2 separate regions of the Homo sapiens genome follow, and region 2 is linked to region 1. Evidence: fine-mapped expression QTL. Tissue or cell type: nasal epithelium. Region 1 holds a variant in brackets; the other region holds the start of a gene. All regions are shown on one strand. Distances are from middle to middle.

Region 1 (8,000 bases):
ACCTTATACTTTGAGATAATTTTCCATAGGAAAAGAAGTTTCCAACGTAATTTTTGAAATAACCATTTAGAAATTACACACTTTAGTAGCAAGTTTCTCCCTCACTATTTAATAGAATATCAACAAAAAACTTCATTCAAATAAATATAATAAAGTACAAGACCAGAAACTACCAGTGAAATACGTTATTTATTCATTCATAGTTCAATTTATCAACATGTCATTATTAGGCACCTACACTTTGCCAGGCACAGATGACAGGGCCACAGAGAACAAAACAGACAAGAGAACTACTCTTATGATGCTTATATTCTAGAAAGAGTTCTTATCATACAAAAGACCAAATCATGGTTAGGACTTCTTTGTAAGCCCACATATTAACCTTGTTTCATGTGGCTACTGCTTTTGCTTACTTTAATCTTCCAGTCAGGTATCTCTGATCTGAGCTTCTCTTTAACGACTCTCCCCGATCCCCATCCTTTCAGGTTGCTGGGCAATAAAACACAGATACATCACCAACTGTTTCCCCCACCTCCAAAAAAACGTGGTAAGAAAAACAAAACCTGGAAAGAAACTTGACCTTAGTAACTATGTAGGCAGGAAATAAAGTAACTAAGCTAGGGAAAGGAAATTAAATCCCCTAACTTCCAAGTCAAGCCATAGATATAGAAATCAATGTGGTATATTTGAAGTGTGATGGAAATAAATTTTTCCTGTATAGATACGAGGGGATACTTAAGATGTTGCCAGAATTATGTGGGTCAGAAGGGTTAGTTAGCAACCACACAAACCAGGACCCACAACTGTAAAATACCTACCACAGTACCTAGCACAAAGAAAACAATATTAGTCTCTTCTCCATTTGATGTTACAAAACAGTTTATATTATGGAAGAAAAATAAGAAGTTCAATCACTTCAAATATAGCACAATATATCTAAACCCTAAATTCTGTTGATTTGTCAAAGCCCAGAGAATCATAAAAAACATTTAGTGAGACATAGCAAGTAAATGAATATTTTTATTATCACTAATGTATGTATTTGTTACTGAAAAAGTTAAAGGACAATTTAGAAAACTACCAGCTGCTACCCATTATTGTAATTGTAACTAGCTTCAAAAAATAAGCTATTCCATGTAACCTCCAGGATGACAATGAAGAAGCCAACAGCTCTTGTAGAAACTCACGAGTCTAGAACCTATCATTGTCTATTCAATAATAAAAAATTAATCCACTACCTTGAATTTTCTCCAAACTCATGGTTTTAAAAAAAGCATAACCCTAAAGTTATGTAATTATATACCAAGCAATTTGTTATTTTAAATGAAATATCTAAGTAATTGAATGTTGTATTTTTTTACACCAGCAGCTATAAAGAAGACAGTTTAAACTGACCATACCCAGTCCTGGCCTCTAGCTAGATTGAGTGCTCCTTGAAGGTGGGGACAAGCTCATCTTCATCCTGGAATTCCATCTTCTCTACCCGTAATCCACCCCATCCTAGCACAACAATCTGCACACTGAAGCCAGTCAAAAATGTGTGGAATTTTTTAGTGCTAATTTGCAGAGAACAGTCCTTCAGCAATCAATTACCTTCCAGCTTTATCTTGGAATTATTATTATTATTTTTGAGACAGAGTCTTGCTCCATCGCCAGGCTGGAGTGCAGTGACACAATCTCAGCTCACTACAACCTCCGCCTCCCGGGTTCAAGAGATTCTCCTGCCTCAGCCTCCAGAGTAGTTGGGATTACAGGTGCGTGCCACCACGCCCGGTTGTATTTTTAGTAGAGACGGGGTTTCACAATGTTGGCCAGGATGGTCTCGATCTCTTGACTTTGTGATCCACCCGCCTCGGCCTCCCAAAGTGCTGAGATTACAGGCGTGAGCCACTGCACCCAGCCTATCTTGGAATTATAAAAATCATGCTCCAATAGGATAGAACTTTTGAAAACAGTTAAAAAGCCTAAGTTTTAAAACAGGAAAATCTAGCGGATTAATCACAGAACTCTTACTTATTCAATTTAAAGCTATGAGTAGTCATTAGGGAACACATCAAATTTAATTTCATGACATCTTCAGTTATAAAAATCAGTTCTTTTCATAAGGCTTCCTTTAAGATCATAATTTGTGGTATAATTTTTGTACTTTTCTTCACAAGATAGCTGTTTTCATATTCTTTCAGAGTGAATTGGAAACACATGCCACTACTTTCAAGGTGTTACACACATTATGTAAGCAAGTTAAATAAAGGGTTATGTAAACCAGTTAATTATTCTTCTAAAATCAAGTTTCCTCTCAAATGCTAAAATTATAAGTTAATTTCCAGGTCAGTTTTTTAAGGAACTTAGAACACACAGAGAAGGTGGAAGTACTTACCCGCCCTCTGTTTCCCCTGATCAGAGATAACTGATGCATATTTAGCTTAAAACCAGGAACCTGGAACACATATTTCACTGTAGCTCTTTAATTTGGTAAAAATATGCTCCTCAGGTTAGTGTTCATTGATCTCAATACCTCCTGAGCAGCAAGTGGAAATGTGCCAACATGACTGTAGTCTAGTTTACTTGGTATCAAAGACATAGGTAAACAGACAGACAATGAGACACTTAATAATAGCTGAATGGTTTGGTGCAACTCACGCGGAGAGAAACGTGATTCTCAAAATGAGAGTCCAGGAGATCTGTTGAATAGGGATCTTGTCATTTACTTACTTAAATTTCATTACAAAGATATAAAGACATTGCTGGAAATGTTTTAGACTGAGGCTACAAATTTCTTTACAGACTCACTTTTTCTATAAATTTAGGACAGTAGTAAAGAGAATTGGTCCACTGCTCTCTGAATGTTAACTCCATTGAAATTGTTCACCTAACTATCTTAGCTAAGCTATTTTTATATTCACAGATTACCCAAAATATTTTCAAAGAAAAATATCCAAAATAATTTAGGAATTTCTAAAGTACGTTCTTCAAGCTTTCAGCTATCTCGCATGTATCTCTTCTAGTTATAGCTGCTACTTTGAACGTAGCAACACTATTTCAGTGGTACTAGTAACTTCTGTAGGATAGTGTTGATGATAATGATGACAATGGCAGTTAATAGTTACTGGTTTTTACATTCCTATCTCTATGCTTTACATGAATTATTGCATTCCATCTTCACAAGCCTTTGAATAATGACTATTTAATGATCTGCCTGACTGACCAGATAAAGGGATATAGAGATTAAGAGAGGCACACAGTCACTAAGGGTTGGAGTTGGAAGGTGACAAGATTTTACTCGAGTCAAGCTTGTATATATGGCCTTCTGAATTAACATGAAAGCTAATGTCAAATGACAAAAATAACAGAAATTTCAAATTGATAAATGAACATATCACAAAGCATTCTTTACCACAATCTTCTGTGGATATAGAGAAGTAGAAATGAGTGAAATAAAAAAGAAAAAATTATAGCACTCTTAAATATGGTACAATCTTAGGGATAATTTCTTTGTTACCCTTACAGCACACTCAAGTTAATTTCCAATTTCTAATTTTATTTTATTTTCAAAAACACACTCAAACCAGACAATTTGTAATTTTCCAGAACTGAGAGCAAGTCAGCTAGCTTTTACTTTGGGGGTATGGTGTATGGTGCAGACAAAAGAACATAAATTTTGCAGCTCTACAGACCAGCATACCAACCCTCATCTGCTATTTACTATGACACGTAGACAAACCATTAACCTCTTTCAACCTCAGTGTCCTCTATCTGTAAAATGAGGATAATAATATCTACCTTACAAGACACTGCAAGTCACAGGGTAGGCATCCAGTGTATGCACAGTGCTGCCCAAAGGCTGGCACACAGTAGGCACCCAATAAATAGCAGCTATCATCTCAGTTATAAACATTACAGGAATAAATATCTAGGAATCTTACGCATTCCCATGCCACAGAAAGATGACTTTCAAACACTTTGCTGGTGTCTGACACCTGGGAGCCCTTTTGGAAGTGAGGAAGCCGTGCCTTCCATGACCATCACGTTACCCAGCAAACCCAGTAACCATGGTCAGCATCACCTCATGATCAGGACATCAAAATTTGGTGAGAGAGCTGTCAACGTGAGTTGAGAGAGATGGCCTAGATATTCTCTAATGGGAAGGCAACAGCAGTGATGGCGGCATAGATTGCATCCTTCTGAATGCCTGCAGCAGAAGATGCATGTGGATTTTCCTTCAAAACAGTTTTTTCTTTGCACTAGCATAAAATATTAAAATCACCAAAGCCAAAAGGCCATGGCTGAAGAAGTAGCAATTATACTACTTTCTCCATTATCTGGCCTTCACTGAAAGATGCAGAAGTGCATTAACAGTAGGTCTCTATATAAGCACCCTTAAAATGAATGAAAGTAGAAAATTTTAGAAACAGTGGCTGAAAAAAGTCTACACAGCACACCTGGGAAATTCTGAAGGGAGAAAAGCAAAGTGAGCACAGTCCCATCCCTTCCTGCACAGAATTATGAATCAACCACTATAGCCTCACCATTGAACTGGCCTGTTTTAAGACACCCTGTATTGTAAGAAATACCATGTGGACCCATCAAGTGGTCCATTGATAGCAAAGAGTAGTTCAGCAATATTGACTATGAAAGAGATAAAAGGTATGGGAATAAACAGCTTTTTAATTCCCACAGTTGCCTTTAAGTAGAAATAGAACCAGAGCTTACTGGTGAACTTCCTCCTTATTCTGTACTCATAACACTCAACAGCATAACTAAATCAGAGGAAACCACAGCAACCAGAGTATAAGCACATACGGATCATGCTT[C/T]ATTACGGCAATTATAAACAAATGGCAAATCACATAGACAAATACCAGGGCATATCAAGAGCTAACGCTCTGGAACATGTAGAGTCAGTTTAAAGGCAGGAAAACTGTGACCTGAAAATAATACTAAAGTTAATCTGTAATTTTCTAAAAGGCTTTTAAAATTACCCAGGGTAAGGATTTTTTAGTATGATAATCACTTACGTGATTTTGCTAACAATACAAGCAAAAAAAAAAAAGTCCATATACATCTTTTTAATATTTATGTAGGTTCATTTGAGACAGAAAGTTGGACTGTTTTGATCACCCTTATAAACTGAGAGCATATCATTCATATATATATCATATTCATTCTTTCAGCAAATATTTATAAGAACATGTATTGATATCAGATCTTATATTTATGAGAATATATGTTCTTTCATTCAGCAAATATTCATCATATACAATATGTTCTCATAAATGTTTGCTGAATGAATGAATAATTATTCTATATATATATATATATATATATATATATATATATATATATATGGTGTCTAAGTTTCTGCTGCGACATAATTAAGTTAAATTACCGTGAGATCAAATGTAAGCAGGAAAGAAGACAAAAGGTGACCCACCTCATGCCTCAGCACCTCAAAGTGGTTTGAAAAACTTGTGCCAAGCTTCCTATGTGGCATAATATCCTTCATACTCATTTAACTTCTAATTTTATTCTTATCGAGGTAGGGTTTGCAATTTCATTATATTTTAATATAATACATAATGATATTTAATATTTGCTGACAATTTTATCATATTTACTACATTCCAAATACTGTTTTAAAGATATACACACACAAACTCATATAATATGACCTTTAGAGAAACACATTCTTTGCAGAAATTTTGGGGGGAAAACAGAAAAATAGAAATTAAAACCACCCATAACCAGCAATAAACTTTTTCAATATTTTGATATATCTTCTTTCAGCTTTTTTTCAATGCATATACACACTCAATTCTTAAAAACAAAATAAAAATTGTACTATTTTTTCAATTTAATAGCCTTTTTGTTTGTTTGTTTTTTGGTTTCAATTAGCAATACAGTCCTCCCTTGGTATCCTTGGGGGACTGACTCCAGGACCTTCTGCAGATACCAAAATCCACAAATCCTCAAGTCCCTTATACATAATGCCATAGTATTTGCATATAACCTATGCACATCTTTCCATATACTTTAAATCATCTCCATATTACTTGTGATACCTAATACTATGTAAATGCGATGTAAGTAGTTGTTATACTGTATTGTTTTTTATTTGCATTATTTTGATTGTTGTGTTGTAGCAGGGGGGATATTTTCAATCCACGGCAGTTACATAAACCATGTTATGTATGTAACTCTTCATATGGCTCAACAATGGCTGGTTCAATCCACGGATCTGGAAACTGTGGCTACAGAGGTTTTAAAAGTAAAAGGTTCCCACAGCATTAAATATTCAAAAGCATTTTTAGCAGCTGTGCAATATTTCACTGTGTGGCTATGAGAGAGGTTATTTAAATATCTCCTGTTGAACATTAGACTGTTTCTAATTTTTTTACCACTATAAAAATACTTTGATAAACATTTTTTTAACTGAAATCTTTAACATGTATCTTTGTTTCCTTAGAATACATGTTTTTAGAAGCTGAGTTACTGGGTCCCATGGTATGACTTTTTAAAAAGACTTTAGATACATATCACTAAATTTCACTCCAAAAAAGCTAAATCAATTAACATGCTTAGCAGTAGTGCAGGAGAGTATCTATTTCCTTGAAGCCTCACCAGTGCTGGCTATTAAAATTTTTGAGAAATCAGCTCTTAATTGGGAGTTGAGGTCAGGAAGTCTGGCACTTGAAATATAAAACATACAGTATGTGCAGAACTTTCCTTTACCTTTGTAAGAATATTTCACTTCCAGTCCAGGAGAGTTACAGTGGATACTGGACAAAGGGAGGTAAGATTTTCTGTTTGTCCAAGTTGAAAATCAAATAAAGCAGTTTTGTAGACCTATGGTCCTTTGGGATGACGTTTTTATAGTTCTAATGAAACACCTAAAAATGTTCTCTGTAAAGTGATCATTTCCAAAACTGAGTGAATAACAGTCTCCTGGGGTGGCTTCTGTAAACAACAGATTCTCAGGCCTTTTCAAGGGCCTACTGAATGAGACCCTCTGGGCTTCATTAACTCATGATACTGTGGCCCTGTCTATTTGGTGTGATGCCTGAGAACCGAACAGGCAGTGCTAATCTTGGATCTGACAGACGAATTTGCTGCTATAAAAATGTCACCCAAAACCAGTCATCTCAAGGTAACAAGAGATAACCTCCAAAGTAAAAACCTGATAAAGGCAGGCCTAGAGAGCTGAAAGGCTTTGGCAGGCACACCAGGGAAAGCAGTGAACAGACTCCTAACCAAGTAGCACTGGGTTCTGAATCATCTGTGGGTAATGAGTATCTGTGTGCCATTATATAATAGATAATGATATTTAATATTTGCTGACACTTTTGTCATATTTACTACATTCCAAATACTGTCTTAAAGCTACACACACACAAACTCATAAAATATGACCTTTAGGAAAACACATTGCAGGTAACAAATCTCTTTCTAGTGGTCTCAATTTCAGCACATTTGACATGGACTGAACATGTACCGTAAACACCATGCAACAGTGACAGAGATCTCCAAAAGGTGGCGATGCCAAGAAAGCTGTGGAGCTGCTCGTTGAAAGGTTAACAGCAGTTGTCAATAAAACTTCTCATTGCAAAAAGATGATCAAAACTTCTCATTCCAAAAGCAATACGTGTAGTAAAAATGCAAAAAATTGAGAAAAGCACAGATAGCATAGAACTCACCTATGATGGCAACAGTTCATAATAACTATTAACATTTTAGTCTATGTACCATTTGATTTACAGTTTCCCAAGCCATCAAGGATGTGAAAAATTACTATTATTGCTCAAGGAAAAAAATGAGGAGGCAATACCTAACTAAAAAATGATTGACAAATGCTGCCTACAAGGTTCACTTCAAAGTATACAGGAGGCCTGGACATCCAGCTTGGCAAGCATTACAACATCTAATAGTGGAGGGGCCAAGAACAAGGGCTCCAGAAACTGGGTTCCAGGGAGCAAATCCTGTCTCCACTGCTCATTAGCTGTTGGCAA
Region 2 (8,000 bases), 120 kb after region 1:
CATGCACCTGTAGTCCCAGCTACTAGGGAGGCTGAGGCAGAAGAATCGCTTGAACCCAGGAGGTTGCAGTGAGCCAAGATTGCGCCACTGCATTCCAGCCTGGGCGACAGAGCGAGATTCTGTCTGGAAAGAAAAAAAAAAATTGATACTACACGCCAAGATTCTTCATATTTCTTTTCATTATAGTCAAATACCTTTGACTCTCCTCTTCTTTTTTAGGACAGTAGTTTTAGTTTTTAAACTAATCCTTTTCATTTTCTCCAAACTTGAGAACTCTCATCTCAATCAGCAGTGCCTCCTAACGAGGAGCCTTGGATCTCTCCTGGTAGTCCCCACCTATCTGTTCCCTAAACTTAGTGTATAAATGCTTTGAGTGGTTCACTGTTGGAAAATTTCTCATGGCTCCCTCAACTTCTGTTCATATCATTTTCTAAGTCCACAACAGCCTTCCTCTTCTCAGCATGACCACTTCCTGCTCAACCTTTTTGCAAATTTCTTCCATGAACTCTGGGCAACTCATGCCTATGCATAGGGACTGCATCTTCATCTTTCAACTAATATCTTGTAGGCTTATTGTCTTGTGATAACTCTATTGTCCTTATTTTCTTTTTCCTTAGAACCTTAAAATATCATCACTGGTCCATGCATTATCCTCTTTCTTTTTTTTTAATACAATATCTACCCCCATCCAAAGTTTCAATTACCCATGGTCAATCTGGTTCTGAGAATAGGTAAATACAGTGTAATAAGATAATTTGAAAGAGAGAGAAACCACATTTACATAACTTTTTATTACAGTATAGTGTTAATAATTGTTCTGTTTATTATGATTGTTAATCTCTTACTGTACCTAATTTATAAATTAAATTTTATCATAGGTATCTATGCATGGAAAAGAAGCATATACATAGGGTTTGGCACCATCGGAGGTTTCAGGCATCTACTAGGGAACTTGGAACATACTCCCTTTGGATAACGGGGGAATTACTGTACAATGATCACCTAGAAACTCACCATGAAACCCAAGGACTAGGTCATTATCAATAACAAACATCCATGTGTGTGTTCCTCCCCACATGCTACCCTCCAGTCCATATAAAAGATAACTGCCATTCTAAGTTTTACGTTCATCATTCTCTTGCTTTCTAAAAAGATATGTATTTCAACAGACATATATGCAAAACAGAAGTGCATGTTTTTATTTAGTGTTTGTATTTGGTTGTTTCCCTGGTTTATGTAAATTAGTACAACCATTTGGGAATATAATTTGGCAATACTTAATAAGTTGAATATTCACATAACCTACAAACCAGCAATTTTATTCCTTGGTATTAACCCAAGAGAAACACTGGCACGTGTGCCCAGGAAACAACAATAATCAGAGCAACACTGCAATATCTCAAAAAAAAAAAAAATGGTCAGAGAGGAGAAAAGAGAAACATACTGCGTTATAAGACACATAATGGAATATTTTACTGCAGTGAAAGTCAGTGAACTACAACTACATACAGTATGAATGAATCCAGAGATATAATATTGAGTGAGGAAAAAAAAGTTCCAGAAGTCAATGGATACTATGAGACCCTTTTTCCCCCAAGATTTAAAACCACTTTTTAAAAAGTATCATAATTATGACCTAACCTTTGCAGCAAAACAACAAAATCCTTCTTTTGAGAATGTATGCCTTACCTTTCAAAACTATATTATCTTCTCTCTAGTCCAACAGTTTCATGAGTAAAGTCATAAGAATTTTTATCTCCTTATGCAGTTTACCTAATCCGGTATCTGTGGTGGTACTAAGACCTCCAACCACAAAGATTTCATCTTGGAAGGACTTTATTTTTCTCCTTGAAATAAAGTTAACTTAAGGTTATAGCAATCTAGGGATAAGAAAACTTACATATGTGATCCTATAAAAGTCCAGCAGAACTACCTCATACTAAAGCCAAGAGTCACCTGACAAGTCATAGTAATCTGAAACTGAGGTACCGCCAAAGGTAATCCATCCACTGAATGTATAATGGCGTTATCAACATTGCATCCAAAAATATGAGCAAAACCAGAATTTTTAGGCTTTCTAAAAGCCTGAAATTTTAATTTCAAAATATTTCATTTTTACCTTAAGAAAAATTATTTTTTAGGGAAAAAATATATGAACTCCTACTGCAAAAGAATAATAATAATAAAATCCACCAATCAGGGCCTTTCCCAATGAGGGCTATGCATATTCTCTGTAGGTGATTATTGCTGAATTACACTGCAGCTTCCCTTCGACCTTGGGAACCCTGCTAACTCTCAGAGTTACTGCGAGGTCTTCTGTTTCATTTATTATTAGTCTTTGTCTCCGCAATGCTGTAGCATGTGATAGAAATATCAACGTTGTGAGCTTGCAGTACCCAAAACTGTAGAAATGTTTCCAAAAAATAAAGCGGGGGTTGGGGGCGGGGGGAAGGATGAAAGAAGGAAAAGAAACAAAAACAAAACAAGAGGAAAACAAAGTTAATGTATTAAGATGGGAAATTTCTTATTTTTACCTTGTGAAGACTACATTTCCTAATCAGCTTAGTGATATGTAACCATTAGTATGCAATTTTTAAATTTAAGAAAAGATGTCCAAGAAAATTATTTAGAAAAAAAAAATCACAACTGAATATAATAGACAATTGGCTAAACTTAGCCCAGCAATTTAAAAATGAAAGTTCCTATAGAAAAAACCTTACAGGATTTTGTGTCCAGAAGAGAGAAATAATCTGGCAACCCAGTGGGTTCACTTAGTTTCGTGTCATTTGCTTCATGTCCATTATGTAATGCTTCCCCTAGCTTTAGGTCTCTATGTTTAAGCAACCGTTCAGGTATATCATAGAATTGTCACAAAATCAGTATCTGGTTATAACTTTCAAAAACAGCTTAAAAGGTGCCTTGCAGATGTGTCTATACGCAGCAGAAGCTTTGGGGAGAAAATCCGCTTGTGTCATTACTTCTCCAGGCTTTCTCCTCAGGTCTCCCATTCCCTCCTCCCCCAGCATCCCCGGCGACACGATCTGCGGGCAGCTCCCGGCTTGATGCAGGGGAAGCACGTCTTGACTGCAATGCAAACGCTGTCCCGGTCTGAACCAGGGAAGGCAGACTTGGCCCTGGCCGGGGGAGTGGACGGAGGCTGCCGGGAGGGCTGCAGGGGCGCCAGCAGCGGGTGGGCAGGGGTGCCCCGCGAGGGCAGTCCGCAGTGCACGCGCACAATAAAACCCAATGCACAACTTCCCCAGCCGCTCCTCTCGGCTTCCCCGATTCCCTGAAAGGTGCGGCGTAGGCGTTAGCTCTCGCGGGCGCGGGCGCTCTCACCCGCGCCGGTTCGGTTTTCCGCTGACAATTACATCAGTCCTTCTCCCTGCCCCTGCTTCAATCCCCAGGCAGCCTGCGGGGAGCAGGGGCGCCGGCCCGCGCGAGGGAATGCGAGCGCTAGTGGCAGGCGGCCGGAATTCCCTGGCAACGAGGGGGAGGGAGGGCGGCAAACCGGGACCGCGATACAGACGCCCCCTCCCATCCCGGCCGCGAGAATGGGCTGACACCGCCGCCCCCACTTCCCTGTAGCCCGGGCTATCGGCCGGGGGCGCCTCCAGGGGGACGGCGATGTCCTGGGGACCCGAAGCTGCGGCTGCCCACCCACGCGTCCCTCGGGGTCCTCGGCCCGCCGGAGGCGCACAATGCCCCCGGGCCGCGATGCGGGCACCTTGGCGCCCGCCCCAAGCAATCCCTTTGCAGCTAGGACACCTACCTGGAGGGCGAGCGGTGGCGCCGCGGACTCTGCGGCGGCTGCGCGGCTGCGACGGGAGGCAGGAGGCGGAGAGCCGGCCCCGGCAGGCGGACTGGCGCGCGGGCTAGTGGAGGAGAGGAGGCATGGGCGCCGCCTGCACCGAGCCGCGATCTCCAGCACCGACAGCGGCGGCGGCGACCGTGCTGCGCCTCCAGTGGTCCGCTGCGCTGCAGCCCCTCCTCTCCCACGGGCGGGGCGCGCTGGCGGGGCGGCGCTCCGGGTTCCCCGCCCCCGGCTCCCGCCCGTCCGCCCGGCTGGAGTGGAGCGGCAAGCGGCTGGGGCTCATGCTGCGCACCCGCCCTACCGGGCGCCCCTCCCTGCGCCGCCAGATGGGCTAAGGACCCGGCGCCCTGCGCCCTGGTCACGCGGGGTCCCACAGCCAGGGCTCTCCCCTGGCCCGGCCTCCGTGGGAACCCGTGGTGTCCCGAGATCACCCGCAGTGGAAACCCCGAGTTGCCATCCGCGGGCCTGCGCGCAGTAGCGGAGCCCTCGCCCCGCGCAGTCCGGCGGAGGTGAGCCGGCCGCGCTCGGGAGGGTTGCCCAGAACGGCTCCAGCGCTCGGCCCAGGAGCGCCGCAGCCGGGAGCACTGCGGGAGACCGAATTCCGAAAGGAACGGCTGCCTGGCGGCCTCCGCTCGGGGCTGCCAAACCCATGTCCCTGGGCGCCCTTCTGAGGTCGTCATTTCATACACTTACGCGACTGTGCGTGCCTGCTCCCGTCCCTGACTCGCTCGGGAGCAAAAACTTCCCGGGCCCAGAGAAACACCTGGGTTCTGCGAAAGGAAGAGCCGGTTCCTTCAAGCCCCTGGCAAAGCCGATCAAAGTCAGTCAGTCCCGCCTCACTACAACCCTTCCACACCCTTAAACCCTTCCACACTCCAAGCCACTCCCGGCCTGCGTTCGGTGTGCAGATTAATCTAAAGGCAAATTTGCTGGGAGGGACGGGGTAATGTAAATATTTGTACAGACATTCTGTAAACGAGTGACTGCGGACATGTCAATATTTCAAGACATTTGTGTCATCATCATCTGGGGGTGGGAGGCGGAGGGGGAGTCCAGAGGACATCGACTGGACTTAATGGGAGCTATTACAGAACATGCTGGGGTGCCTTCAAAAATGGAAGATATTGCTTACTAATGAGGCAACTGTGATGGCATTTCATTGTGCCCTGTGCTGACAAAATGATTTGCTATGAAACATAGTCGACTTTATGCACTCCTTCCCACATGCAGTTTCTCTTGAATCTCCAATCTCACCTGTTGGATTAGCTTTTTCCATCTAGACTAGCAATGTTCTCATGTCCTCTGGTCACAAAATAATAGATGCGGGACCCTGCGACAATGGCAGTTTGTCCTTCATTCCTTTGCTGTGAAGACAGGCTCCTCAAGGGAGCAGCTGGGATGCTGACCTCTGCTTCATCACAGCCACCCTTTCTACTTACTCCTTCTGAGTTCCATTAACAGAAACTCTACTGAAATGGCTTTCTCCCTTAAAAGAAAAAAAGCTAAAACCCATGTATTTAAAAAGAAATACAAAAGTGTGAACGGAAATGAGAGTACACACAGCACACAGAATCTTTACCTAAAGAAGTTCTCTAGGCCCGGCGCGGTGGCTCACGCCTTTAATTCCCGCACTTTGGGAGGCCAAGGCGGGCGGATCACTTGAGGTCAGGAGTTGGAGACCAGCCTGACCAACATGGTGAAACCCCGTCTCTACTAAAAATACAAAAACTAGCAGGGTGTGGTGGCAGGCACCTGAAATCTCAACTTCCCGGGAGGCTGAGGCACAAGAATCGCTTGAACTTCCTGAAATCTCAACTTCCTGGGAGGCAAAGGATGCAGTGAGCTGAGATCGTGCCACTGCACTCCAGCCTGGGCTACAAAGTGAGACTCTCAAAAAAAAAAAAAAAGAAAGAAAAAGAAGAGGTTATCTAATTTTTTCTCTGAACCCCTAATAGCAGAGAACCATAAACTATGGGGAAAGAGAGGGGACTACCACAACCTAAATCTCACGTTTTAGTGTAAGAATGTTCTCACGCTTTTCACTCTATTCCATAGTATCTATGTGTGTTTTAATAGTTTTAAAAAATGGCTTTAAACATCAGGGGAAAAAAGTCTCCCCCCATCTCATTGATTAATGGTCAAATAAGAGGTAACGGTACTACACGCATCCATCTGGGGAAATGGGTGGATTAAACACAGCGGGCTGTGCGGAACTAGAGATCAAGGCAGTTTCTCCACCCTATTGGTGCATCAGTGTATCTTGAAAACTCAGACTGGCATAGATATGTAAATATGAATAACAGGCTTTTCACTGCTTTTTGAGCTATGGCAGGATTATTGCTCAAAAAAGTGCCAGTGCCAGAGAGCAAAGTTTTCATTAAGCGTACATTCTTGCTGAGTGTTAAAGTCACAAGTCATATGTTGACTAAAAGGATCTCAGCTCCCCTAATCCATCCCTTTTGTCTCAGAAAATACTTGTTCATGGACTTTTCCAGTGAAGAAAGATAATGATGTTCTTAAAAGCCATCGATGCTATAATTCCATCACATACAACTGAACTGAGCCTCATAGGAATCAGTTTCCCCCATCAATTCATCCAAGTCCCACTTCGTTTTCATTGCATTTTCTTAGATGAGTACTATTTTAGCTGGAGTTTTTAGGAAGGCTGAAGTGCTAATGCTTCCTTGAAAGATGCAAACCCAGGGCAACAAATGAGGAATAGGAGAAATGAGACAGGAAAGAATAGAAAGCAAATACATAGTGATATGTTACCAACCTGGCCTGTGCTTCATGAACCTGAGAAGACACAGCCAATTGCTTAGCCATGCAAAACTGTGCCCAAGAACAGTCTATCAAAGAAAAGACTGAAGAAGAAATTTACCTGAAAGCTACCTCCCATTTCCTCCAGCTTCCAGGATGAGTCGTCATCTGACCTGTCTGACAGCGACTAGAGAAACAAATCCCATACTTTGCAGACAAGGTATGGTCATCATACTAGATTGTTCTATAGGCAACATGGTTATGCTGGAAACTATGTTTCCCCAAATCCCCTTTTGTATATGCTTCCAGACAGACAAAATTGAAGTTACCTGAGACTTAGGAGGCAATACTGAAGCAGCATCTTCATTTGTCTCTCGCCACCTCTAACCAGTGACAACTGTCAAGATGTAATGAAAGTCGTCATTGGTTAGAGGTGGCGAGAGACAAATGCCATTTCTAACCAATGAGAAGAGATGCAGGAGAGTTCCTGTTTGTTCTCATTCTTCCCTGCTCTGTATTCGCTTCTGACAAGTAACTGTGACCACAGGCTAGCTAACAGACTCTTCACAGAAACTCACAGAGGCAGCAATCATAAAGAGCCAACAACCTTCTGTAGATGTCTACACCAACCATCTTTGTACTCTCACTACAGCAGCTGGATGTGCCTAGCCTAATATCCAGATTTCCCTGCAAGCTTGGACTCCTCTGCCCAAATCAGGATTGTTCTCTGATCCCTTAACTCCCCTTTTCAGACTTTTAGACTTTTACTTCTCCAACTCCTCCCACAAATGTGACGTAATGTCTTTTTTTTTTTTTTTTTTTTTTCCTTTTTTAAACAGAGTCTCCCTCTGTCGCCCATGCTGGAGTGCAGTGGTGTCATCTCGGCTTACTGCAACCTCCACCTCCTGGGTTCAAGCAATTCTCCCGCCTCAGCTTCCTGAGTAGCTCAGATTATAGGTGCCTGCCACCATGCCCAGCTAATTTTTTGTATTTTTAGTAGAGATGGGGTTTTATCATGTTGGCCAGGCTGGTCTTAAACTCCTGACCTCAGGTGATCTGCCTACCTCAGCCTCCCAAAGTACTGGGATTACAGGTGTAAGCCACTGTGCCCAGCCCTAATTTCTATAATAAATTCCTTATTCAACATATTCACAATGGTCCTGCTTCCCTGATGGAAGCCCGTCTGCCAGGAGCTTAGGCTGGATCTGCTTCAGGAGGCCTGGATGGGAGCAGTCACTTGGGGACTGTTAAGGCAGGGCAAATAGCTAAGAAACCTGGAAAAATGTGAGGCCAAGAGACTCTAAGGATGAACGCTACCTGTGCTTTATTCAAATAGCAAAAATATTCATAGTTTTGCCTTGTATTTGTTACTTGAGAGAGTTCAGCTTTGAAAATGTTTTTATTATTACTAAATTAACCTACTTTG

Evidence for each region. PIP is the estimated chance that this variant, and not a neighbour inherited with it, causes the effect.
Region 2: OSBPL6 starts here. The variant in region 1 is fine-mapped to the expression of OSBPL6 in nasal epithelium (TOPMed, PIP above 0.99).

What each region holds. Positions count from the first base shown.
Region 1 is chr2:178,314,780-178,322,779 of GRCh38, reverse strand. The region is part of intron 3 of OSBPL6 (oxysterol binding protein like 6); the gene reads right to left. Among named protein-coding and RNA genes, the nearest start is that of CHROMR, 95 kb to the left of the region's middle. The variant C/T (reference allele first, on the strand shown) is at 4,812.
Region 2 is chr2:178,190,447-178,198,446 of GRCh38, reverse strand. OSBPL6 (oxysterol binding protein like 6) reads right to left here and starts at 3,935. Exons shown (of 25, transcript NM_032523.4): 1 at 3,773-3,935. RefSeq lists silencers at 2,951-3,245, 3,692-4,381.